Homo sapiens: one gene and its partners. The protein of the gene in region 4 purifies or fractionates together with the protein of the main gene of each other region. This does not show direct contact. Each region holds a gene or a part of one and is shown on either strand. Other genes may lie near its edges. The genes, in order: HDLBP, SLC35E1, CPVL, GRK7, THUMPD3, ZYG11B and TIMM21.

The links.
Region 1: the proteins of GRK7 (region 4) and HDLBP purify together in Homo sapiens (affinity purification with mass spectrometry; one large-scale study listed by BioGRID and IntAct). This does not show direct contact.
Region 2: the proteins of GRK7 (region 4) and SLC35E1 purify together in Homo sapiens (affinity purification with mass spectrometry; one large-scale study listed by BioGRID and IntAct). This does not show direct contact.
Region 3: the proteins of GRK7 (region 4) and CPVL purify together in Homo sapiens (affinity purification with mass spectrometry; one large-scale study listed by BioGRID and IntAct). This does not show direct contact.
Region 5: the proteins of GRK7 (region 4) and THUMPD3 purify together in Homo sapiens (affinity purification with mass spectrometry; one large-scale study listed by BioGRID and IntAct). This does not show direct contact.
Region 6: the proteins of GRK7 (region 4) and ZYG11B purify together in Homo sapiens (affinity purification with mass spectrometry; one large-scale study listed by BioGRID and IntAct). This does not show direct contact.
Region 7: the proteins of GRK7 (region 4) and TIMM21 purify together in Homo sapiens (affinity purification with mass spectrometry; one large-scale study listed by BioGRID and IntAct). This does not show direct contact.

What each region holds. Positions count from the first base shown.
Region 1 is NC_000002.12:241,305,673-241,309,172, forward strand, and holds part of HDLBP (vigilin), read right to left. Parts: intron 1-3,500. UniProt on the Homo sapiens protein: Appears to play a role in cell sterol metabolism. It may function to protect cells from over-accumulation of cholesterol.
Region 2 is NC_000019.10:16,552,377-16,555,415, forward strand, and holds part of SLC35E1 (solute carrier family 35 member E1), read right to left. Parts: intron 3,022-3,039; coding exon 2,776-3,021; intron 1,534-2,775; coding exon 1,303-1,533; 3' UTR 1-1,302. UniProt on the Homo sapiens protein: Putative transporter.
Region 3 is NC_000007.14:29,000,038-29,003,537, forward strand, and holds part of CPVL (probable serine carboxypeptidase CPVL isoform b precursor), read right to left. Parts: intron 1,348-3,500; exon of another isoform or gene 1,292-1,347; intron 1,019-1,291; exon of another isoform or gene 932-1,018; intron 1-931. UniProt on the Homo sapiens protein: May be involved in the digestion of phagocytosed particles in the lysosome, participation in an inflammatory protease cascade, and trimming of peptides for antigen presentation.
Region 4 is NC_000003.12:141,762,079-141,766,207, reverse strand, and holds the start of GRK7 (rhodopsin kinase GRK7), read right to left. Parts: upstream 2,801-4,129; 5' UTR 470-2,800; intron 1-469. UniProt on the Homo sapiens protein: Retina-specific kinase involved in the shutoff of the photoresponse and adaptation to changing light conditions via cone opsin phosphorylation, including rhodopsin (RHO).
Region 5 is NC_000003.12:9,383,554-9,387,053, reverse strand, and holds the end of THUMPD3 (tRNA (guanine(6)-N(2))-methyltransferase THUMP3), read right to left. Parts: intron 2,843-3,500; coding exon 2,719-2,842; intron 2,531-2,718; coding exon 2,366-2,530; coding exon of another isoform or gene 2,322-2,365; 3' UTR 263-2,321; downstream 1-262. UniProt on the Homo sapiens protein: Catalytic subunit of the THUMPD3-TRM112 methyltransferase complex, that specifically mediates the S-adenosyl-L-methionine-dependent N(2)-methylation of guanosine nucleotide at position 6 (m2G6) in tRNAs.
Region 6 is NC_000001.11:52,764,453-52,767,952, forward strand, and holds part of ZYG11B (protein zyg-11 homolog B), read left to right. Parts: intron 1-3,500. UniProt on the Homo sapiens protein: Serves as substrate adapter subunit in the E3 ubiquitin ligase complex ZYG11B-CUL2-Elongin BC. Acts to target substrates bearing N-terminal degrons for proteasomal degradation with the first four residues of substrates being the key recognition elements.
Region 7 is NC_000018.10:74,158,523-74,161,031, reverse strand, and holds the end of TIMM21 (mitochondrial import inner membrane translocase subunit Tim21 precursor), read right to left. Parts: 3' UTR 501-2,509; downstream 1-500. UniProt on the Homo sapiens protein: Participates in the translocation of transit peptide-containing proteins across the mitochondrial inner membrane.

The DNA of each region.
Region 1 (3,500 bases), on a different chromosome or scaffold from region 4:
AAAAATCACCCTGGTGATAACCACTGCTAGAAATAAATAGCGTGATGACTAGTATATAGGAAGCAATGAATACAAAGTTGTTTATTTGTTTTTTTTTTTTTTTTTGAGATGGAGTCTCGCTCTGTCGCCCAGGCTGGAGTGCAGTGGCGTGATCTCGGCTCACTGCAAAGTTCCGCCTCCCGGGTTCACGCCATTCTCCTGCCTCAGCCTCCCGAGTAGCTGGGACTACAGGCATCCGCCACCATGCTCAACTAATTTTTTGTATTTTTAGTAGAGACGGGGTCTCACCGTGTTAGCCAGGATGGTCTCGATCTCCTGACCTCGTGATCCACCCACCTCAGCCTCCCAAAGTGCTGGGATGACAGGTGTGAGTCACCGCGCCCGGCCAAAAAGTTTTAATAGGTGAGGATTTTTATATCATTCATGGATTCTTAAACGTGATCACAAAATCAGATGTTTTATGAGTGACTACCAGCTCCAAGTGTTATCCTTCCAAACTTGAAAACTGAATTTCTGATAAACTGAGTTACCCAGGTTCTGAGGCATCTGTTTAAAAAAAAAAATGAAAAATGAAAAACCCACTCAGAGATTCAGCTTTTTTTTTTTGAGATGGAGTCTTGTTCTTGTTGCCCTGGCTGGAGTGCAATGGCGTGATCTCGGCTCACTGCAACCTCTGCCTCCCAGGTTCAGGCAATTCTCCTGCCTCAGCCTCCCACAGCTGGGATTACAGGCATGAGCCACCACGCCCGGCTAGTTTTGTATTTTTAGTAGAGACGGGGCTTCTCCATGTTGGTCAGGCCAGTCTCGAACTCCTGACCTCAGGTGATCTGCCCGCCTCAGCCTCCCAAAGTGCTGGGACTACAGGCGTGAGCCACTGCGCCTGGCCTCAGCTTTCTTATTTTTAAAAGAAAGGAGCTGAAATCCTACAGGTCAAAAAGTACCCCAAGTCAGGCTGGGAGCAGTGGCTCATGCCTATTATCACAGCACTTCATTGGGAGGCCGAGGCTGGCAGATCATTTGAGGTCAGGAATTCGAGACCAGCCTGGCCAACACGGCAAAACCCTATCTCTACTATTGTGCATGCCTGTAGTCCCAGCTACTCAGGAGGCTGAGGCAGGAGAATTGCTTGAACCCGGGAGGCGGAAGTTGCAGTGAGCGGAGATCATGCTGTCATACTCCAGCCTGGGTGACAGGGAGAGACTCTGTCTCAATAAATTAAAAAAAAAAAAAAAAGTATCCCAAGTCCCCAAGTCATAAGGCTGATAAGAACAGGTCCAGGGAGTAGCTCTGAACCTATTCAAAAAAAAAAAAAAAACGAGGAAAAGCCCAAAATTGAAGTGAGGTCTCCTGACTCCCAGTACAGTCAAAGACACCATCCTTTCATTTTTGTTTCTTTTTTGGGGGGCGGGGGGGACAGGGGGGCAGTGTCATCCTAACCTGGATAAACATCTCAACTCTTTGTTGAGTCAGGGAGAAATAATCAATATCCTGCCTTCTGTACCTAAGACAGCAAGTACTGCTGCAGGTCTCACAAGGTCTACCTCAAGAACTTCTGAGACTACAACAGAGGGAAAAGGCAAGCCCTAGAGTGGATCTGAAAAACGCTTATTTGAAAGAATTCATCGAGACTGCTCACGCCACTTGCTGACTGTTGACTTTGACATCAGCCACTTCTTACCTCTTCCTGCCCCAGGAGAGACCTGCGGTCATAGCACTGGGGTCTCTGGGATACAGCTAAGCCTCCTGAGAGACTGGAATGGGATGGGTAGGGGCTACACGAATAATGGTTTAATTAACATTGACAGTATTAATAGATTAATACTGCAGTGGGCTTGCTGTAGTGATGGTCTACCAAGGAACTTGATTTTTTAGCTTTAAAAATATTCTAAAAGATAACTCAACAAAACAATGTAAAAACTGGCAACCCCCCCATGAGGCTTTACCAAAAAATATATTCTAAACTGTATCTTCAAAACTGTAATTTTAATTATACTTTAATTATAATTTTAATACATGATTTAAATAAAAATAGGATCTTACATGCATTCTTTCACCATCTGCTACACTTATTTTCATTTGAAAAGACACCATGGCCATCTTTCCGAGTACCAAATACAAATTTACCTCATTTGTTAACAACTACATGTTGAGTGGAGTAAACATACCTTAATAAATCCCCTACTGATAGGACCCTTGAACTAATTTTTTTTTTTTTTTGCGATTATAAACAATGCTGGAAAGAACATCCTCTGCTCACTTGGGCCTCTACCCCCACAGGATAAATTGAATTGGAAATGGAATTATATGATGACAGGCAATGCATTGATAGATATTGCCAAGGTAAAACTGCCCACCTCCCAAAGAGTTTAACTAGTTACACTCACAACACCTGATTACAGAATACCTGTCCTCTTCTCCTTTGAGGACAACTAAAATGATCATGTTTATTCTTTTTTCCAGCCTGATGTGCGGGAAATACGATTTTAATGGCAACTCTGATCATCAGTGAGACAGCAATCTTGTTGAGCTTATTGACCTTTTGAATTTCTGTACTGTGAAGATCAAACTAATCACAACCAATCCGTCGTCCACCTTTCTACCAGTGTTTCAGCAACGCTTGTGAGACAAAGCAAAATCCACATCTGGGCAACAGAGCAGTAGGAATGAACAGAAAGAATTATAAATTTAAGTGAAACTCAAGTTGTATGCCAAAAATAACATTCCTAAAGGGCACCCAGGCAAAAGTGATGAGAAAATACTATTAAAAAGGACATCTTTTGCCTCAATTAGTCACACAGTAGACAACGTAAGCTGATGACCTGAGACACCTCAGCCTGCCAAAGTTCCGTTTCATTCACAAACATTAACCTACTCTGCTTTAAGAGAAGGGCTCCCCCAAAAGGTAATTGTGCTTGCAGAAAAGCGTCAAAGTGTATACTGTTTTGCGGGGTATGCAGACCTGGGTAGATGGTAGACTGAGGCTGACTGACAAGGCCAGGTTAGGGAAGCAGTGAAGTAGCTGAAGGCACAAACTGGAGCCAAACCACTAACTCTAGCCTTTGCCTCAGGGTCTACCTCGACCTGTGATAACAACAATACTTGCCTCCTACAGGTGACAGGAAAAGTAAGAAATGTCGTGAATGGTGTGGCCCATGGTCACTTCACCACGATCCACCACCAGTACTGGGTCACTCTGCTCCAGCTCTCCAAAGGCATCAAGATCCGACTGCTAGGAGCCCCGGCTTCTTCCCTGACCTGCCCGTCTCCTACACCCTCTGGTCCTGCTCCACACTGGTCTAATAACTGGTGTTCCACATTCCTCTAACGTGCACAACACAGTCCTGCCCCCGTGCTTTTCACCTCCTGTCCATTCCTCTTATAACGCTCTTCCCCAGATCGCTGCCCATGGCTTGTTTGCTCATCTCAAGTTTGAATCAACTGTCGCTCAATCAGCAAGGCCTCCCCACTATGCCAAACTGCCACTGTGTCCCCCACTCCAC
Region 2 (3,039 bases), on a different chromosome or scaffold from region 4:
GTTACCCAGGCTGGAGTGCACAATCTCGGCTCACCACAACTTCTGCCTCCCAGGTTCAAGCAATTCGCCTGCCTCAGCAGCCTGAGGAGCTGGGACTACAGGCACGCGACACCATGCCCGGCTAATTTCTGTATTTTTAGTAGAGATGGGGTTTCACTATGTTGGCCAGGCTGGTCTCGAACTCCTGACCTCGTGATCCGCCCATCTTGGCCTCCCAAAGTGCTGGGATTACAGGTGTGAGCCACTGTGCCTGGCCGGGGAACTTTGTTTTTAAACGTTTACAAACAAAAAGATTTTCGATGCATAGGCCAGTCCTAATGCATCCCATAATGGGGACCAAGGCAAAAACACACACACACAACTACAAAATATTCCCTAGAAAAATGCAAGATCCTCCGAAAATCAAGATCTCTCTACCAAACAACATACCAAGTCATCACAGAAGAGGTGAAGATGCCTCTCAAAAGACATGTGCCACAGAAATAGAGCTTGAAATACTGAACACGATTTCTCGAAGATCCTTCTCACCACCCCAAGAGAAGCGCCCTGCTCTGGTGAGGGAAGAGGAGGCAAAGGAGAAGAGAGAAGTTTCCCTTCCATCTGGATCTGGGTGGATGCCAACCCTGACGTGCAGGGCAGAGCACCAGGCTGCAGGAACTGGATGCTAATTGCAATCGCTTTTTGCTTTGGAACATTTGCCAGGAACTTGTGAACTGCTAAGGGGATGACCAGGAAACTGGATCCATCTCTGTGGCTGGGGATGTTTTGAATGATTCTCGCGGGCTCCCTGTCTGCTTGGTGACCCTGTTGGTCCTATGCGTATCTGCGCCAGGGAATTAAACTAGCCAGTCTGACGTTCTCAAGCACCGCCCTGGACACCCCCACTGCCAGTTCATGGTCTACAGCCACAGTGACCCCAGCTTTTCACACAGGTCCTGAATGTTATCTGGAATGCAGACACAAGTGCTCTGAGCTACACTGCTTGGGGAATAATTCCACATGGAAAGGTACAACGTGGCCAAGATCTCCGCAGGGACACGGCCCTCAGATGACAGACTCCAGGAAGAAAGAGCATGAGACACTGGTCTCTGTTTAGGTTTGCCCAGAGCTCACGGCCGTCTGCACTGCAGGCAACGCATCCTCCTGCGGCTCACGGGGGGCCAGGAACCCCAGGGCTTCTGATGGAGAGTTATGCACCGTCCCCTCGGCTGGGTTGTACATTCACTGATTGTCAGAAGTTTCTGATACTGCTGTGGGGGCCGGGGAAGGAGTCACCAACAGTCTGGTCCTGTCCTTTGGACTCTACACATCATAGCGGTTCAAACTGTACGAGTTTGGGTAGCTCTGCCGGCTGTATTGGAAGTGGTCTGTTAAGATGTTGTTGCGGCCGTACTGATAGTCCCCGTGCTGGGGGAAGAGGAGGCCGTTGTGGGGCTTCTCCAGTGGGCTCCGGTGACGCTCCTTGCTGCTCAGGTCTGCTGTGGTGACGGGGAGGAGGTGCTTCCTGGCTTGCTGGTTTGCATCGTACTTGGTCTGTGCCAGAAAGAGAGCAATGAGACAGGACATGCCCGGGGCATAAGAGCTCGTAATTCAAAGTCAATCAACTGGCTGGCTGCGGTGGCTCACACCTGTAATCCCAGCACTTTGGGAGGTCGAGGCGGGAGGATCACCTGAGCTCAGGAGTTTGAGACCAGCCTGGGCAACATGGCAAAACCCCGTCTCTACTAAAAATACAAAAAATTAACCGGGTGTGGTGGCGCATGCTGTAGTTCCAGCTACTCAGGCGTTCTGAGGCACAAGAATCACTTGAACCCAGGAGGCGGAGGTTGCAGTGAGCTGGGACCATACCACTGCACTCCAGCCTGGGAGACAGAGCAAGACGCTGTCTCAGAAAAAAAAAAAAAAAAAAAAAAAGTCAGTTAACCTCCGGGGCCGGCATAAGTCATAGGGCTTGAGCAAGGAAAGCAGACTTGAATGGACCAGACCACAGTGCATGGACAGACTCAGAAGACAAGTCCTTGGCCAGGCGCAGTGGCTTATGCCTGTAGTTCAAGTGCTTTGGGAGGCCTAGGCGGGAGGATCACTTGAGGCTAGGAGTTGGAGACCAGACTGGACAAAATAGAGAGACCCCATATCTACATGTGTTAAGAAACAAATGAAGAGGCCAGGTGTGGTGGCTCATGCCTGTAATCCCTACACTTTGGGAGGCCAAGGCAGGTGGATCAACTGAGGTCAGGAGTTGGAGGCTGGCCTGGCCAAGATGGTGAAACCCCATCTCTACTAAAAATACAAAAATTAGCCAGGTGTGGTAGGCGCCTGTAGTCCCAGCTACTCGGGAGGCTGAGGCAGGAGAATCGCTTGACCCCGGGAGGCGGAGGTTGCAGTAAGCTGGGATGGAGCGCCACTGCAATCCAGCCTGGGTGACAGAGCCAGACTCCATCTCGAAAAAAAAAAAAAAAAAAAAGAAAAGGAAAAGAAGGCAAGCCCTCCCTGTTGGCCATCCCATGTCCTTACACCGCACTAAACAGAGCCTTTGAGAGGAGGGAGGGAAAACCCCAGCTGAGACACAGCCGGAATGATTTGAGGACCTGAGGTTGCCTATGCAGGAAAAAGGAAGCCAGAGTGGGATGGGGCTACGCCAAGATCATAAACCAGTCAGTGGCAAAGCTCTGACATACAACCCCAGCCTTGAGCGCCCGGGAGGCCCTTCCTTTTCTGACTTCCTGGGTGTTGGGGGGCCGGCTTCCTTCCCTGCCCAGCCTCTCAGACTCTCACCTTGTTATAGAGGAAGACCCCCAGGATGGCGGTCATCATGCCCAGGACGTTGGTGCTGGTGACTGGGTTGCGCAGCATGATCAGGGACACCGTGATGACCATGATTCTTTTGGTGGCATTGGCGACCGAGTAGCTCAGGGGGCTAACGAGGTTGAGGATGCTGAAGGCGATAACATTCTGGGCAAAGTTACAGAAGCCGCTGACAGCCAGGAGCAGGAGCGTCCAGGGCCACTGGTAGACGTAGGTCTGCAGAGACCGGAAGGT
Region 3 (3,500 bases), on a different chromosome or scaffold from region 4:
GAACTGTCTATTTTGGGTGCCTCCACACTAGAGCTGCAGCCTCTAACTTCATGTGTTCCAGATGTTCCAGGGGGTCACAAATGTGTCATGAATTTCAACAGGGTTATACAAACACTTTAAAGCTTCATTCCACTTTATTTTTTAGAAAACAATATAATTCTCCCTGGAACTAGAAACAAAGACCTGCCAGTAAAGGTTTCCCAGTTGTGCCTGTTTAGATGACAGAAAAGAGAGGGAAGTTCACAGTGGGCTTGTTGATGTAGATGTGTCAGGGGAAGCTTCTTGGGGGTCTTGAAGGAGATCACTGGACGGAGAGTGGTGGGTGGGTGGGGTGGGGGTGGAGGGATCACCGCAGACAGAGGAAACTGTGTGTGGAAATGCAGGAGGCGTGGAAATGCAGGAGGCATGGAAATGCAGGGGCATGAAACTGTGGGCACGTGCAGCAGAGGGATCACCGCAGACAAAGGAAATTCTGTGTGGAAATGCAGGGGCCGTGAAGCTGCGGGCGCATGCAGCAGTCTGTATGTCGTCCCATTCATGCAGGAATAGAGGGAAACAGAAGAGACAGATGAACAGGCAAACGCTAGTGGGACCATGTGATGCCCCAAGTGACATGCTGGGATGAGTGGACCTTATCCTATCGGGCTTTAAAAGCAACTGTGGTAAAATACACTTAACATAAAATTACCACTTTAACCATTTTAAAGCGTATGATTCGGTAGCATTTAGTATATTCACACTATCTTGTTGCAGAATATTTTCACCACCCCAAAGGAAACCCATATACATCAGTAATCACTTCCCACTCCCCCTCTCCCCATCAGCCCCTGGCAACCATTAATCTGCTTTCTGTCTCTATAGACTTGCCTATTCTGGATATATCCTAGAGGGTTTTAAGTAGGGTAGTGACATGCTTATGTTTGCATTGTAGAAAAATGACTTAATGTCTAAGGAGAAGGCTAATTTGGAAGGGAGTCATACTGGTACAAGGAGGCAAATTAGGAGACTACCAAATCAGGTGAGAGGATGTGGGCTCATGGGAGGGATGGGGAGAAGGGGAAGGAGAAGAGGGTAGTAAGATGGAACCAATAAAATCAGTGATTAATCCGATATAAAGGTTAAGTGAGACTTTCTCTACCCATCCCCAACAAATCCTCCCCATTTCAGGCTTCTGACATGGGCAGATTTGCAAAGGTGGTGCTACTCACCAGGAAAGAGAAAAGAGCCACATGGGAGCTGCAAGTTTGGCAGGCAGAATATGTAGGATTGGTTTATTGTTTCTGCTTTCCAGTATAGAAAGATGCATACCCTCAAGAGAATCTGCTTGTTGTGGTTTCTGATTTACATGTAAGTTCTTTTCACTACTTTTATGCCATTCCACATTTACTAAATCTTATCTTTTAGTTTGCTTTCAGACACTAACTATAAGTAGAAATAACGTAAATAGCATTCAAATAAAAATATATTGAAAAGGTACTTGGGAACGAGAATAAAAAACAAGCCAAAGCTTGTTAGCAGACACTTCCTAACAAAGAATGCAATAAGTCACTTTCGAAAGAATGAAAAAACAGCAGAGATCAAGGCTGGGAGTTGCTTCAACAGCACTCAGGGAAACGATTCTTGAGGTCTCCCACTGTACACCTCTGGTGTAGCAAATGGTTATTGAATAGAATGAGAAAAGGAGCTTCTAGGTGCTTCAGGAGACCCACATGTAGCCATCATAATGGTACATATTCTAGAGCAGTTAAAACTTTTGGTGCTCCTTTACAACATCCCCAAGGGGCTTCCTATGTACACCATCTTAATCAGTTGCAACAATACTGTTTGTAATTTAGGACTTCCACTTCTGACTGTGACACAATAGCATGTACCAAACCAATCTTATTCCACAGAAAACAATAGAAGCTGAATTAAAAAGAAAATAAGCTGTTTAAAGGTATCAGAGAGCAACCAAGCCTTGAGAGAGGCCATGATCGTAGAGAAAAGGGAATCACAAGGAAGTGAGCCTAACATTTTGTGCTGCTTTTCCCTTTGGGAAATTCACCAATTTTTAAGCTTCTCTGACCAAGACGCCAAGTCAAAAGCGGCAGATAAGAGAATGAAAAGCTCATTAGTCTTACGGTGCTTGAGAGACCAAAAAACAAAAACAAAGAAAACCCCAAAAGAAACAACAACAACAAAAAATTGGAGTTGCAAGCCTGTCAAGGAGGGACAGCACTGGTAAGCACTGCAGGCTTTCCATCAGATCCGTGAAAGACAATGCCTTGGAAGTAATAACAAACCAGAAACAGGTTAGTCCTCACAAACCTTGAAATCAAGCACTGAATCAATCGTCTCAATCCCAAACTTTATCAAGGTGATATGCCTCTACTCTGTATGCCTTCTAGAAAAAATTAAATCCTTTTGGAAGAAAAATAACATTTTTCTTCATATATTTTTTGTACATTTTCTTCAACATTTAATAAAATTTAATAGGCATGACAAAGAACAAGAGCAATGACTAAAATTTAAGGAGAAAAAAAGATAACAGAGACCACAAATGATCCAGATATTAGAGTTACCAGGTACACATTTTAAAGTAACTGTGAACAAAATATGCAAGATGTTAGGTATAGAAAAATAATTCACAAGATAATTAGAATATATACAAGAGAATCAAATGGAAGTTCTTTAACTAAAAAGTTACTCATTCATTGTTCATTGAAATTAAGAACTCGATCGATGTTTTAGCAATAGATTAGGCATGCAGAAGAAACACTATATGAACTGGAAGTTAGGTCAGTAGAGGATATCCAGACTGAAGCATGGAGAATAAAGGTATGAAAATTCAAAAAAAAAAAAAAAGAAGAAGAAGACGACATGAAACCATGAAACATTTAACTTATGTTTAACTGGAATTTTAGGATAAAATGATAAGGAAGAAATGGGGCAAAAGAAACAAATAGTAACATTCAGAGATACTGACTGAAAAATTTCCAAAATTGACAAAAGTTACCAAGCCAGTTTTGAGAAGCTCTATGAATCCTAGATAGAATAAACACAAAGCAAACTAACCACATCATAGTACACATAATAGTATATTAGTAATAGTATATTACACTATAGTATGTGTATGTGCACACACACACACACACACACACACACACACACAGAGAGAATAGCATTTTGCTAAAAGCAAAGACAGAGAAAATCTTAAAAGCTGTCACAGAAAAGGAAACAGTACTTTCAGTACCTTCAAAGCAGCAAGAAAACTGACTATTCAACAGAAACAATGAAAGCTGGAAGACAGTGAAATAATATCTTGAAAGTTCTTAAATAAAATATCTGCCAACCTAGAACTTGTATAGAAATGAAGACCTTGTAAAGATATTTTCAAGGAAACAAAAAATTGGAAAAGGTTTTTGTCAGCAGACCTGCACTAAAAGAAGTACGAAAGACTGTTCTTCAGACAGAAGGAAAATTATCCGTAATGGAAACATGAAAATGCAGAGGAGAATGAA
Region 4 (4,129 bases):
TGGACGACAGAGTGAGACTCCATCTCAAAAAAAAAAAGAAAAAATTAAGTTAAGCGTGTAAATGTTAAATGTCCACTGGTGGGGTAGAGGGAGTTATGTTAAAGAATACTTTAAAATATTTAAACACCCCAACTTTTATAAACAATAGTAACATTAGAGTCATTTGCAACTGAGATGAAAGCCTTATTTCCATATACAGTGTGGGCCTGACCCTTGATATACGCTATGGTAAAGAAAATGGAACACCAGATTCAGCTGGTGACACTTAAACACCTCTTACCTGATAGCACATTGCAAGTGAAGACTTTGATGTATAAAAGAGAATTCGTAAGTAGTACTGAGTACTAAGTCATATTAACTAAAATCCACACAAAGCTCTGGCCTATGTTTCATTTGTCTATTCATTCTATGCACTTATCCCACAAATATACAGATTTGCTTTGATTGGGCAGCTCTTTGCTGGTCTCACCTGGACTCACTCTTATGGTTGCATTCAGCTGGGGGATCGGTGGGTGGCTGAGCTCAGCTGGGAGAGCTGGGGTGGTTGAGCCTCTCTGCAGTGTTTCCTCCTGGGCTTCCTCAAAGCATGATGGCCTCAGAGCAGTTTTCCAAAAGGGTGAAGGCAGAAGCTGCAAGATCTCTTCAGTTCCAGGCTCTGGAGCTGATACACCGTTAACTTCTGCCACATTCTACTGGTCACAAGCCTAGCCCAGGTTGATAGGAGTAGCTGTAAAATACTGTGGCCATGTTTTCCAACCCACCACAGATGGTGGTAAGTGCTGTGAAGAAAAATCAAGCAGGGAAGGAGAAGGGAAGTGCTGAGATACACCAGGGAGAAGGCTTCACTTTTAAATAGGGTGGTCAGGCAAGACTGAATTGAGAAAATGATGAGAGTCAAGACCTCCTGAAGGTAAGGGCGTGAGCCATGTGACTGCCTGAGGGTAGAGCACTTCAGGGAGAAGGAACAGCTGGCTCAAATCCTGGTGAGCTTGAGAAACAGCAAGAAAGTCAGTGTGGGTGGCCCAGAGTGAGGGGCCCGCAGCAGGAAATGTCCTCAGAGAGGAAACAGAGCAGACCAGTGAGGCAGTACTGATCACTGCAAGAACTTAGGTTTTCCTTCTGAGTGAGATGGAAAGCCACTGGAAGTTTTCAACAATCAGATGGACATTTTAACAGGATCACAGACAGAAGGGGCAAGGGTTAAAACAGAAAAACCAGTCTGGAGGCTGCTGCAGTAACCCTGGTGAGAAATCAGGGGAGGGGGAAGATAGTTTGCTTATGGATGGATTGTGGGTGTGACAGAAAAGGAGCAAGGGTGATTCCAAGGTTTTGGGCCTGAGTAACTGGAAGGATGAATTTCTGGTAAACAGGGTGGGAAATCCTCTGGAGGAGCAGGGTGTGGGGAAGATCAAGAGCTCAGTCTTGTACCTGTTAAATTTGACCTGCCAGGGAGACAGCCAAACTGAGGTCTTGAGTAGTCTACAAGATCTATGGGTCTGGAACCCACAGGAGAGGGCTGGGCTGGAGATACTCACTGGGAGTCACCCCAGATATAAATGGCCTTTAGAGCCACAGGACTGGGTGTGATCACTCTGGGGTGAGGGCAGAGAAATCTAAGGACTGAGCCCTAGAGTTTGAGGAGGTGAGGGCAGTGGGGTATTAGGAGAGACAGAATGTGGATCCTGGATATCAAGGGAAGAAAGAGTGTCAAGGAGAAAACAGTGATTACTACGGCAAATGCTGCTGAGAGGTCAGTGGGATAAGGACTGAGAATTGGTCAGTGAATTTAACAACTTGGAGGTCACGCAGATGCTTGACAAGAGCAGTTTCTATGAAGTAGTGGGATGAAAACCTTATGAGAGTCAGTTCAACAGAGAATCAATGAATTGGAGGCAGCTAGTGTAAGCTACTCTTGAGGAGTCTTGCTTAAGGGTGTGACCACTGGAGTGAGTGGCAGTCAAGGCAGGGGTGGAGAGCACATCACTGGAAGAGATGAGATCAGGGGATGGAGAGGCCAGGGTATGAGAAGCATCAGCCATGTGGGTATTGAAATCACCAAGAATTATCAAGAGTAGTGATGGAGAGCTGGGAGCTAGCAACTCAGCGAGTGATTTGTGGGGCTGCAAGAAGACACAGTGACTGCTGGAGTCCAGTCACATGAGACTCAAAGCTGGGTGTTTTTAGGGAAGGAAGGAGAGCAGCAATGAAGAGAAATGAAGACGTCTTGCATGTTGCCAGGTCCAGTTGGATGAGGGGAGCAGAAGTGTTGCAGAAGAAACAGTGTCCTTGGGGGAGAACCAGGTTTTAGGGAAAACAAAATGGAGGGAATTTGTAGGGAAGGGAAGAGGACGGAGGAAATTTTGTTGGTGTAAATATTGGAGGGCACAGAGGACAAGTTTCAGAAGTCAGGAAGGGGTGGGAGTTGCAGGAATAAAAGGGAATGTAAAGAACTACTTGGAATTAGAGTTAGGAGAATGTGAGTTGAGCTGGAAAACTGGGTTTCTTGTGTTGAGGTATCTAACTAGGATAAAGGGCAGGATGAGATTGCTGGACTCAAAGCAGATGGTGGTGGACAGTGTTGGGGGCAGGGAGGGGTGCTGGCCTTGCCACGCACACTGGATCTGGATCCGGGATCCTGCAGCTTCCACTGGGCTACTGCTAAGTTGAAGGAGGTCTTAGGCACAGCACTGGGGCCCTGGTTCCTCGTCTGTGAAGGTGGAGCTGGCAGAGGGTTGGGCTGATCTGAGGCCCCCCAGACTTTGCTGGGTTAGTTAGTGGGTTTGAGAGCTAAGGGTGGAAGCTACAGCAAGAACTTTGAAAGTTGCTCCTTTCACTTTGCATTCACCTTAAGGACCTAACAGCAAGGAATGGTGAAGTTGGGAGGACTCCAGAGCTCCTATGCTTTATTAGGTGCCTTATGCCCTCACAAAACTTCAGTTCTGGGCTGTTGTTTGACCGAAACACAGCACTATGGCTTCAGGGTCATCAACGGCTATTTGAAGCATGAGGTATGGGAAGAATCCAAGCCCATATTTTTCATCCTTAAGAAGATCTGGAGGAGGAGCCAAGATGGCCGAATAGGAACAGCTCCGGTCTACAGCTCCCAGCGTGAGCGACACAGAAGACGGGTGATTTCTGCATTTCCATCTGAGGTACTGGGTTCATCTCACTAGGGAGTGCCAGACAGTGGGCGCAGGCCAGTGGGTGCGCGCACCGGGCGCGAGCCGAAGCAGGGCGAGGCATTGCCTCACCTGGGAAGCGCAAGGGGTCAGGGAGTTCCCTTTCCAAGTCAAAGAAAGGAGTGACGGACGCACCTGGAAAATCGGGTCACTCCCACCCGAATATTGCGCTTTTCAGACCGGCTTAAAGAACGGCACACCACGAGATTATATCCCTCACCTGGCTCGGAGGGTCCTACCCCACGGAATCTCCCCACGGAATCTCGCTGATTGCTAGCACAGCAGTCTGAGATCAAACTGCAAGGCGGCAGCGAGGCTGGGGGAGGGGCGCCCGCCATTGCCCAGGCTTGCTTAGGTAAACAAAGCAGCCGGGAAGCTCCAACTGGGTGGAGCCCACCACAGCTCAAGGAGGCCTGCCTGCCTCCGTAGGCTCCAGCTCTGGGGGCAGGGCACAGACAAACAAAAAGACAGCAGTAACCTCTGCAGACTTAAATGTCCCTGTCTGACAGCTTTGAAGAGAGCAGTGGTTCTCCCAGCAGGCAGCTGGAGATCTGAGAACGGGCAGACTGCCTCCTCAAGTGGGTCCCTGACCCCTGACCCCCGAGCAGCCTAACTGGGAGGCACCCCCCAGCAGGGGCACACTGACACCTCACACGGCAGGGTATTCCAACAGACCTGCAGCTGAGGGTCCTGTCTGTTAGAAGGAAAACTAACAAACAGAAAGGACATCCACACCGAAAACCCATCTGTACATCACCATCATCAAGACCAAAAGTAGATAAAACCACAAAGATGGGGATAAAACAGAACAGAAAAACTGGAAACTCTAAAACGCAGAGCGCCTCTCCTCCTCCAAAGGAACGCAGTTCCTCACCAGCAATGGAACAAAGCTGGATGGAGAATGACTTTGACGAGTTGAGAGAAGAAGGCTTCAGACAATCAAATTACTC
Region 5 (3,500 bases), about 130 Mb from region 4:
CCTTGCAGTGGAGACCTGAGTCCTATCTGACATTGGGACTACAGTTAGGGCAGAATTTCCTAAACTGCCATTTTTTAAAGAAATAAGGGTAACCAAATGTTCCCCTTAAAAGCACTCTGGTACCCTCTAGTATTGGGAGATAACTATCTTCCCCTAATTAGATTTGTAAAATCTTTCTCAATATTTATTTACATTTTTTTCCCCTCAAATATATTGACTTTTTCATTCCCAGTAACAATATGTCTGGTCTGTAACTAAGTCATTCCATGTTCAGATTACAGATTTATTTCCCCATCTTTTCACATTCTTTTAGTCCAGGAGACCCACTTTGAAGGTTAAAACCAAGGTCACACAATGAATAGGTGGCAGTGTCACATATAACTCAGCTCCAGGCCTTATGAATCCTGCTTATAGCCCACTGCCTATTCTAGTCACCAGATTGAAAAACACCATACTAGGGAAGAAGACGGCAAACTATTGCCCACTACATATTTGTATCAGTCTTGTCAAATTTTTATTGTAGTATGTAATAGAATTAAAGCTATGATGAATCAAGTAAAAAATGATTTCCTTAAAAACTAAGCTAATAGGCGAAAATACTCGCTTGTTCAACAAATACCCAGTCTGGCAGATACAATACCCTGCCCTTAGTGGGGGGTGGAGTGGGGGGTGGGGGGGTGGGGAAAGACATCGTGGTGAAAACAGACATGGTCCTTGAACTTCCTGGTTCTGTGGGTTGCTTAATTTGAGGTTTAAATGGTTTCTCCCATCAGGTGAAAAGTTTTGTGTTCGGCCCATAAACAAAGCAGCTGTGAATTCTGATAGTGGTAAAAAGGCCAGTCTAGGATATAAAACCTTCATAAACATCTTATTTCCCATTCATTATGAAGTGTGGGGTAGGAGATCAGAGAAACCAGATGAGGATTGCTGGCTGTGCTGCTAATGTGAACTCTTCTTTCAAAAGTATTGTGTCCTTTTATTCTCAATGGAGACATCAGAAAGTATTAAGAGGAGTACTATTATAATACTAATAGGATACTGAAAATCTATACTGATTGCAGCCAGAGGCTCCAAAATAAACAATACTATGATGAGTTCCACAAAAAAACCTCAACTACTCTTTGTTCCAGGGAAGCACCATTTTCCACAAAACTCTCAAGAAGGACTTGTTGCAACTGGAAAAGCAATTAAATGTGAATCGTGATCCAGGAGAAAGTAACAACTCACATAACTCCCAAATTAAAAGTTTTCCAAAGATATATCATTTTTTTTCTCTTGGCCTTTTAAGAAACTAGCCAACAAATACTCTTGACAGGTTTGTGTTTGGTTTTGAAAACACACACCTTAGTGTACTGAAAGAAAAACAATTTCTTTTAATTTGGTTTGTTGGTCCCACACCCCATCTATCAATGTATGTGCTATTTACAAATAAGTTCTATACAGTATTTTTGCAGTACCTTTGATAATTCCTAGACCTCTATTTTCATTCTGTGTATTAATGTGAATAACAGATGGATATTTTAATATTTAAGGCAGATGGTAAACTTTCCTATAGGTCTTGTGAGACTTCGTCTTATAGGCTGAACACCATTCACAAAATGTAATAATGCTTCATTCCTTCAGGTTGAGGTAAAGAACTTGAGCAACTGGATTAGCAAAGCTGCAAAGAATGAAATGTGGCCTAAGATGTAATTATGTTCTCTGCCCTTCCTTTGGGCCAGGGTAGTTTTGCACTTGACACAATGGAAAATAGGCCATAAAGCCTGAAAATAAAATGTTCTAAACCCCAATCTCACAGCACTTTAGTAGGCTTTTCACTAGGCATCTTTAAAGTATTTTCAACAAAATACTAATTAAGCTACCACTTCAAAAGAGCTTCAAGGAAAAGCTCTGCTTTCTTATAAAATCTTTTTGAGACAGAGTTTCGCTCTTGTCGCACAGGCTGGAGTGCAATGGCGTGATCTCGACTCACCGCAACCTCCGCCTGCTGGGTTCAAGTGATTCTCTAGCCTCAGCCTCCTGAGTAGTTGGGATTACAGGCGCCCGCCACCACACCTGGCTAATTTTTGTATTTCTAGTAGAGACAGGGTTTCACCATGTTGGCCAGGCTGGTCTCCGGACCTCAGGTGATCTGCACACTTCGGCTTCCTAAACTGCTGGAATTACAGTCGTGAGCCACTGTGCCTGGTCTCATAAAACTTTTAAATTCCATCACATTACATTCACACCTTTTGCTAACCAGGATGAAGAGCCTTAAACAGGTTTAAAGAGTGCAGACTGCAGTTTTGTTAATACTTTTTTCCTCTCCAAGTTCTTTTATGCTAACATTTCCAGTGGTGGGAAGTACAAGTACTATTAGTCATCTTCATTCTTTGCATTGCCAAAGAGTTCCTCTTTCTCCGTCTTGTTCTGAAGGATGAACAAAAGCTTGAGGTGTACGTATCAGAACGTAAACTGCAGCACGAAGACCACCAACGTTCACCCAGACTGTATCCACCTTTCGCCATACGTGTCGCATTCCAGATAACGCCTGTGTACACACAAAAAAAATAACAATTAGGTTGACAATCTACTTTTACATCAACTAGGATTCTTAACTGCCAAGATAGGAAACCTCAGGGGAAGAGAAAACAAATCTTATCCAAACAAACATCCCCAAATCTCAAAAAGATCCCAAAGTTGCCACAGGCTGCGATTTTGAGCTAATGTGTATAGCACCTTGGTAAAGCATTTTGTGTCTTGAGTAAGTAGTACAGCTCGGCCTGTGGTAGGTGTGCAGACACGGCTCATCTCCCGTAGGCAAGCTGGATAAAGGTTCCAGTTTCTCTTCTTGGATCCCATCCTATAATAGAAGGTCTCATGAGTCAAACACTTGCAAAAGATACAAAATAGAAGGACTATATGAAACAAAAACAGTTTCATGCATCCTGAGGCATGAAAAATAGCTGTAGTTTTAGAAACCAGACCTTTGCCATTACATGTCTATGAAATAAGTTGAGTTAGTAAACTGCTTAGAATTCTGAATCAAAAAAATTTTTTTTAGACAACTGTGTTAGTTATATGACTTGTCCTCTTAGTATAATAAGCAGTCAAACTGTATAAACCAAACAAGTGATTAGAAATCATTTAGGCCAGGTGTTTTGGTGGCTCATGCCTGTAATCCCAGCAGTTTGGGAGGCTGAGGCGGGCAGATCACCTGAAGTCAGGAGTTTGAGACCAGCCTGGCCAATATGGTGAAACCCTGTCTTTTAAAAATACAAAAATAAGCTGGGCATGATGGCATGTGCCTGAAATCCGAGCTACTCAGGAGGGTGAGGCAGGAGAATCGCTTGAACCCGGGAGGCAGAGGTTACAGTGAGCCGAGATCATACCACTGCACTCCAGCCTGGGCAACAGAGCAGGGCTCTGTCTCCAAAAAAAAAAAAAGAATCATTTATGCTGAGAAACAGAATGAGAACCAAGTCTTCTACCACCTTTTTGTGTAGGATATATAATTCAAG
Region 6 (3,500 bases), on a different chromosome or scaffold from region 4:
GAAAAGAGCATGAGTTCTATAAATCGGTCCTAGGTCTGAGTCCTGGTTCCAACATTAATTTGCTCTTTGACCCTGGATAAGTTACTCTGCAAGTCTAAGATTCCTCATCTGTAAAGTGTTGATAATTATAACTCCCTCACAGGGATTACTGTGAATATTTAAATAAGACAATGAATGCAACATGAATCTTGCTTTCATGGAGCGTATAGTCCAGTGGGAGACACAATTAGGAAGTAAACATATAGAATTACAGCTTGTGCCAGGTTCTCTGAGGGAAAAAGAACACTGTTCTCTTAAGAAGAATAATAAAGGAAGGGAGATGTTTTAACTTGGATGATCAGAGAAAGCTTCTAAAGTGGTGATACTAGACTGAGACCTGAATGACAAGGAGGGAAGTCAGTAACATAAAGGCGGGCTCCTCGGCACTGCCCAGGAGTTCTGGAGTATTTCCCCAGTAAACTAGTGTTCCTAACAGTAGTTTCAGATGTTCTTTGCTCTTCTCAGACTTTCTACCATTTATCTTAGGAAGAAAATTGAAGCCATCAGATAAAATTCCCTTAACTCCATGTAAACCACTGCTTCCAATTTTTCTGAGTGATCTTTTTTTTTTTTTTAATAGAGATGGAGTCGCACTATGTTGGCCAGGTTGGTCTTGAACCCCTGGCCTCAAGGAGTCCTCCTGCCTTGGCCTCCCAAAGTGCTAGGATTATAGGCGTGAGCCACCACATCCAGCCTATCTTTTTTTTTAATTAAAAAAAATTATTTTTTGAGACAAGGTCTGATTCTGTTTCCCAGGCTGGAGTGTAGTGGCATGATCATAGCTCACTGCAGCCTTGAACTCCTGGACTCAAGCAGTCCTCCTGCCTCAGCCTCCTAAGTAGCTGAGATCACAGGTGCATGCCACCAACATCTGACTAATTTTTAAAAATTTGTAATGGAGATGATGTCTTTCTATGTTGTGCAGGCTGGTCTTGAACCCCTGGGCTCAAAGCAGTCCTCCCACCTCAGCCTCCCAATTACAGGAATGAGCCACCACACTCAGTTTTTTGTTTTTTGTTTTTTGTTTTTTCCCAGTCAGGGTCTTACTCTGTCACCCAAGCTAGAGTGCAATCATAGCTTACTATAATCTCAAACTCCTGGGCTCAAGCGACCCTTCGACCTCAGCCTCCCGACTAGCTAGCTAGGACTACAGGTATGTACCACCATGCCCGACTAATTAAAATTTTTTGTTGTTGGGATGGAGTCTTGCAATGTTGCCCAGGCTGGTCTCAAACTCCTGGCCTCGGGTAATCCTCTTGTCTCATCCTCCCAAAGTACTGGGATTATAAGCATGAGCCACTGTGCCTGCTCATTATTTCTTTAAGTACTTTTTCAGCCACACTGTCTTTCTCCTGTCCTTGAGATATTCCAGTGACACAAATATAGCTTTAGGTTTTTGGTTTTGGTTTTTTTCCCATTCTGTTCTTGTTATTTAAATTAGGTAATTTATGTTGTTTTATCTTCTAGTTCACCAGTCTTTTTTCTCTGTTCTCTATTTTACTGTTGACCTCAAGCATTATTATATTTTTCACTTCTAAAATTTTTATTTGATTCTTCTTTATATCTTCTCTTGCCTTGCTGAGTCTGTTTTCATTTTTTTCTTTTTTTCCTTATTAAATTTTTTTTAAATTTTTTTTTTTTTTTTGAGATGGAGAATCTTGCTGTGTCGCCCAGGCTGGAGTGCAGTGGTGCGATCTTGGCTCACTGCAACCCCTGTCTCCCAGGTTCAAGTGATTCTTCTGTCTCAACCTCCTGGGTAGCTGGGACTACAGGCGTGTGCCACCATGCCCAGCTAATTTTTGTATTTTTAGTAGAGATGGGGTTTCGTCATGTTGGTCAGGCTGGTCGCGAACTCCTGACCTCATGATCTGCCTGCCTTGGCCTCCCAAAGTGCCACCGCGCCTGGTCTGTTACTCATTTTTTTTCAAGCATATTTGTTTACTTTTGAAAATTTAATTGCATTTTTTTATGGCTCCTTTAAAATCGTTGTCAAATAATTTTAACATTTCTGTTACCTTACTGTTGGCATATATTGATTATCTCTTTTTGAGTTTGAAGTCTTACTGGTTCTTAGTATGATTCAGAGTAATTTTTTATTGAAACCAGGACATTTTAGGTGATATGAGACTTTTCTGTTTTAGTTTGAGTCACTGACGTCACTCCAGCAGTGGAAGGTAGGAGCACTGCCTTGTTACTGCCAGATTGGGGTTAATGTTCTTTGTAAAAATTTTTATAGGCCAGGCACAGTGGCTCACGCCTGTAATCCCAGCACTTTGGGAGGCCGAGGCGGGCGGATCACGAGGTCAGGAGATCAAGACCATCCTGGCTAACACGGTGAAACCCCGTCTCTACTAAAAATACAAAAAATTAGCTGGGCATGGCAGCGTGTGCCTGTAGTCCCAGCTACTCCAGAGGCTGAGGCGGGAGAATGGTGTGAACCCGGGAGGTAGAGCTTGCAGTGAGCCCAGATCGCGCCACTGCACTCCAGCCTGGGTGAAAAGCGAGACTCCGTCTCAAAAAAAAAAAAATTATTTTATTTTATTTATTTTATGTTATTTTATTTTATGTTATTTTTATTTTTTATGTTATTTTATGTTATATTATTTTGTTATGTTTTATGTTGTTATTTTATTTTATTTTGTTATTTTATGTTGTTTTGTTATTTTATTTTATGTTATGTTATTTTGTTACGTTATGTTATTTTATTTTATTTTGTTATTTTATGTTATTTTATTTTGTTATTTTATTTTATGTTGTTATTTTATGTTATTTTATTTTGTTATTTTATTTTATGTTATGTTGTTATTTTATTTTATGTTATGTTATATTTGAGGTGGAGTTTCGCTCTTGTTGCCCAAGCCGGAGTGCAATGGTGCGATCTCAACTCACTGCAACCTCCGTCGCCTGGGATCAAGCGATTCCCCTGCTTCAGCCTCCCAAGTAGCTGAGATTACAGGCAGGCACCATCAGGCCTGGCTAATTTTTTGTGTTTTAGTAGAGACGGGGTTTCACCATGTTGGCCAAGATGGTCTCGATCTCCTGACCTTGTGATCCATCCGCCTCGGCCTCCCAAAGTGCTGGGATTACAGGTGTGAGCCACTATGCCCAGCCAGATTAGGGTTAATGTTCTTTCTGGTTCCCCACTTGGCTTCTCTTGACACCCAAGGTGCAGGGCTATGCAGAGGTTGGAATTCTGACTCCCCACTAGGATTCTATTGATACTTCCCTAAATGAGAGGGGTATGGGTATGTCATTTCTGCTTCCCAGTTGGCTTCTACTGACACCATGTTGGGAGGAGGTGGCCTCATTACTGTTGGGCAGTTGTGAAAGTCCTGACTTTCCACTAGACTTCCTATGACAGCACCCCAGCAGGGAAGCAGGTAGAGAACTTCATCGCTGCTTGATGAGTGTTGAAGTTCAGGCTCCCCAGAAGGTATCTACTAACATCGTGGTGGGGGATA
Region 7 (2,509 bases), on a different chromosome or scaffold from region 4:
AACACATGAGTGGTACTATATAAAATAAATAGTAAGTGTAACCCTGAGTAGAAATCTATGAATTAGGAATTGGGGAACTGTCTCTGGATGAGAATAAGAGAAACAGAAGTAATATTGTAATGGCTTACCAAATGGAAATAAATGGATAAAGTATTACTAGCATTGATCAACAATAGTTATGAAGGGAGCTTGCAGGGTAGTTAGGCTGGAAATCTCACGGGGCTAAAAGCAGAACTTCTGATAAACTCTTGCCTTGCATATAATTTCTTCATTAAGGAGGAAGAGCAAACAGTGACAGGAGAGTCTGCTCTAGAGTTAGTTGTGAAAAGAGTTCACTGATCAGGTGTGGAGGAATGACAGAGGCCTTGGAGGAAAATGACCAGAGCATTTGCAAATTCACAAATATGACGGAAGGGGATACCAGGCAGAGTCAGATAAGTGCCCTAGAATTCAGAGAAAAAGTGGGAGTAAGCCCATGGACAGAGACACCACAATCAAAGTGGATTAAAGAGGGTCTTAAAACACAGAAATTTTAACATTTAGTAGGGTACATCAGAGGGAATGAAAACAGAGATCTAGAGAGTTACACATCACATTTTCCTGTGGCTATACAGAAGAATCTCTTATTGGTACAGAGTTTTTCCTTTTGAAAAAGTAATTTAGTTTTATTTCTAATTATAAAAGCTCAGATCTGTTTTTTGTTTTTTTTTTTTGAGACGAAGTCACACTCCGTCACTCATGCTGGAGTGCAGTGACATGATCTTGGCTCACTGCAACCTCTGCCTCCTGGGTTCAAGCGCTTCTCCTGTCTCCTGAGTAGATGAGATTACAGGAGTGTGTCAACGTGCCTGGTTAATTTTTTTTTTTTTGAATTTTTAGTAGATAGGGTTTCACCATGTTGGCCAGGCTGGTCTTGAACTCCTGACCTCCAGTGATTGACCTGCCTCAGCCTCCCAAAGTGCTGGGATTATAGGCATGAGCCACCTCGCCTGGCCAAAAGCTCAGATCTTAAAGGGGCATGAGCATATTGTAAAATGGCAGGTGCATAAAAATGAATACAGAAAAAGCAAACAGTCTTAAGTCAAATGACAGGGCCATGGAGGGTGGCTAAATCCCCACCTGAGCTCAGATGCCGGGCTTCTTCAGCAAGCTACAGTTTGAGCAGGTTGTTTGAAGAGCAGGGCTGCTTTTTTGAGTTTAGGATAGCAAGTGGAACTTCTCAGCCTGTTAAATGTTGACATTTCAGTGAATCCTGAAACTGAACATTCTATAGCAAAGGAAAAAACGATTAGGAGAGAAAGCCTAAGTTAAGGCCTCATTCAGTCAAAGTGTGTTACGTCAGGGAGACGAGTGTCTGTTATATTTTCTATACTCCTTAAATGTTGGAAATTTTTATAATTAAAAACATCTAAAACAAGCAGTCAAACCAAGAAACTAACTAAATTAAGCAGGGAGATAAAGTAAAAAGGGGAGATAGATTGCCTGGAGGTCTCTCTATCCTGAATATCCCAAAATTTCAAGAACACATCAGAAATTCCTCTACAGACAGTTCTCGGGGAGAAGGAACAAACACATCAGAGGGGATACCTCACACTGAAGCCACCGCAGATAAACATGGTTCTAGACCCCTCCCAATGCACATAGCACTTACATAGATATGGAATCAGGATCTTGTAAGTGAAGGTCACTTTTTTCCAAATCCCCAGCAAATATTTCAAATAAAATAGAATTTCCTTTTTTTTTTTTTTTTTCTTTAAGGGGCCTCACACACGTATTTGAATGTCTCTCATTCACTCCCATGTTCTTTTGGCAGTCAGAAGTATCAGTGCAAGTAAGTTCTAAAGGGGATGAGGGCACTTCATGGCTGCCTTCTATGGTCCAGGCTTGTACCTCTCATCACACTGCCATCCTAACAACCCACACAACAGGGACACTTGACCACGCACCTGCTAGAAAAGGTGGGGTGGGTGCCCAGGTCTACCCAACTTGGGAGTGTGTACTTTTCCCGCTATGTACTAGGCCCTTAATTCATGAAGCGCGAAATATGAGACAGATTCCTAAAACTCACACAATTTTGAAGAATGTATTTACCATCTGGTTCCCTATGGCCCTCAACCATTTTCACATGCTTATCTCAAGTCAGATTCCAAAGTATGCGGAGGGCAGCTGCTAATGACATATTTGTTAGTTTTAATTTTATTCTGCAGACATTATGCAGTTCTATAATATAAAATGAATACAATACTAAAATCTATTTCCTTTATTTACATGGTGTAACATTTCCAATAACAAACATTTCTAATCATGAAAGATGGTGTTAAAGCAGAAATATTGTCATGATTGAGTCAATGGGAGAACATAAAATATGCTGTATTTCATAATTTTTCCGTAAGAAAATGTCTAGTTTGTTTAAATGCAACAAATACTGTATTAGATTCACTTTATAAGCCATACACTCCTTCTTGTCTTTCTTTTGAACACATTCTGGAAGGCAGCTGTGAAGAACGGA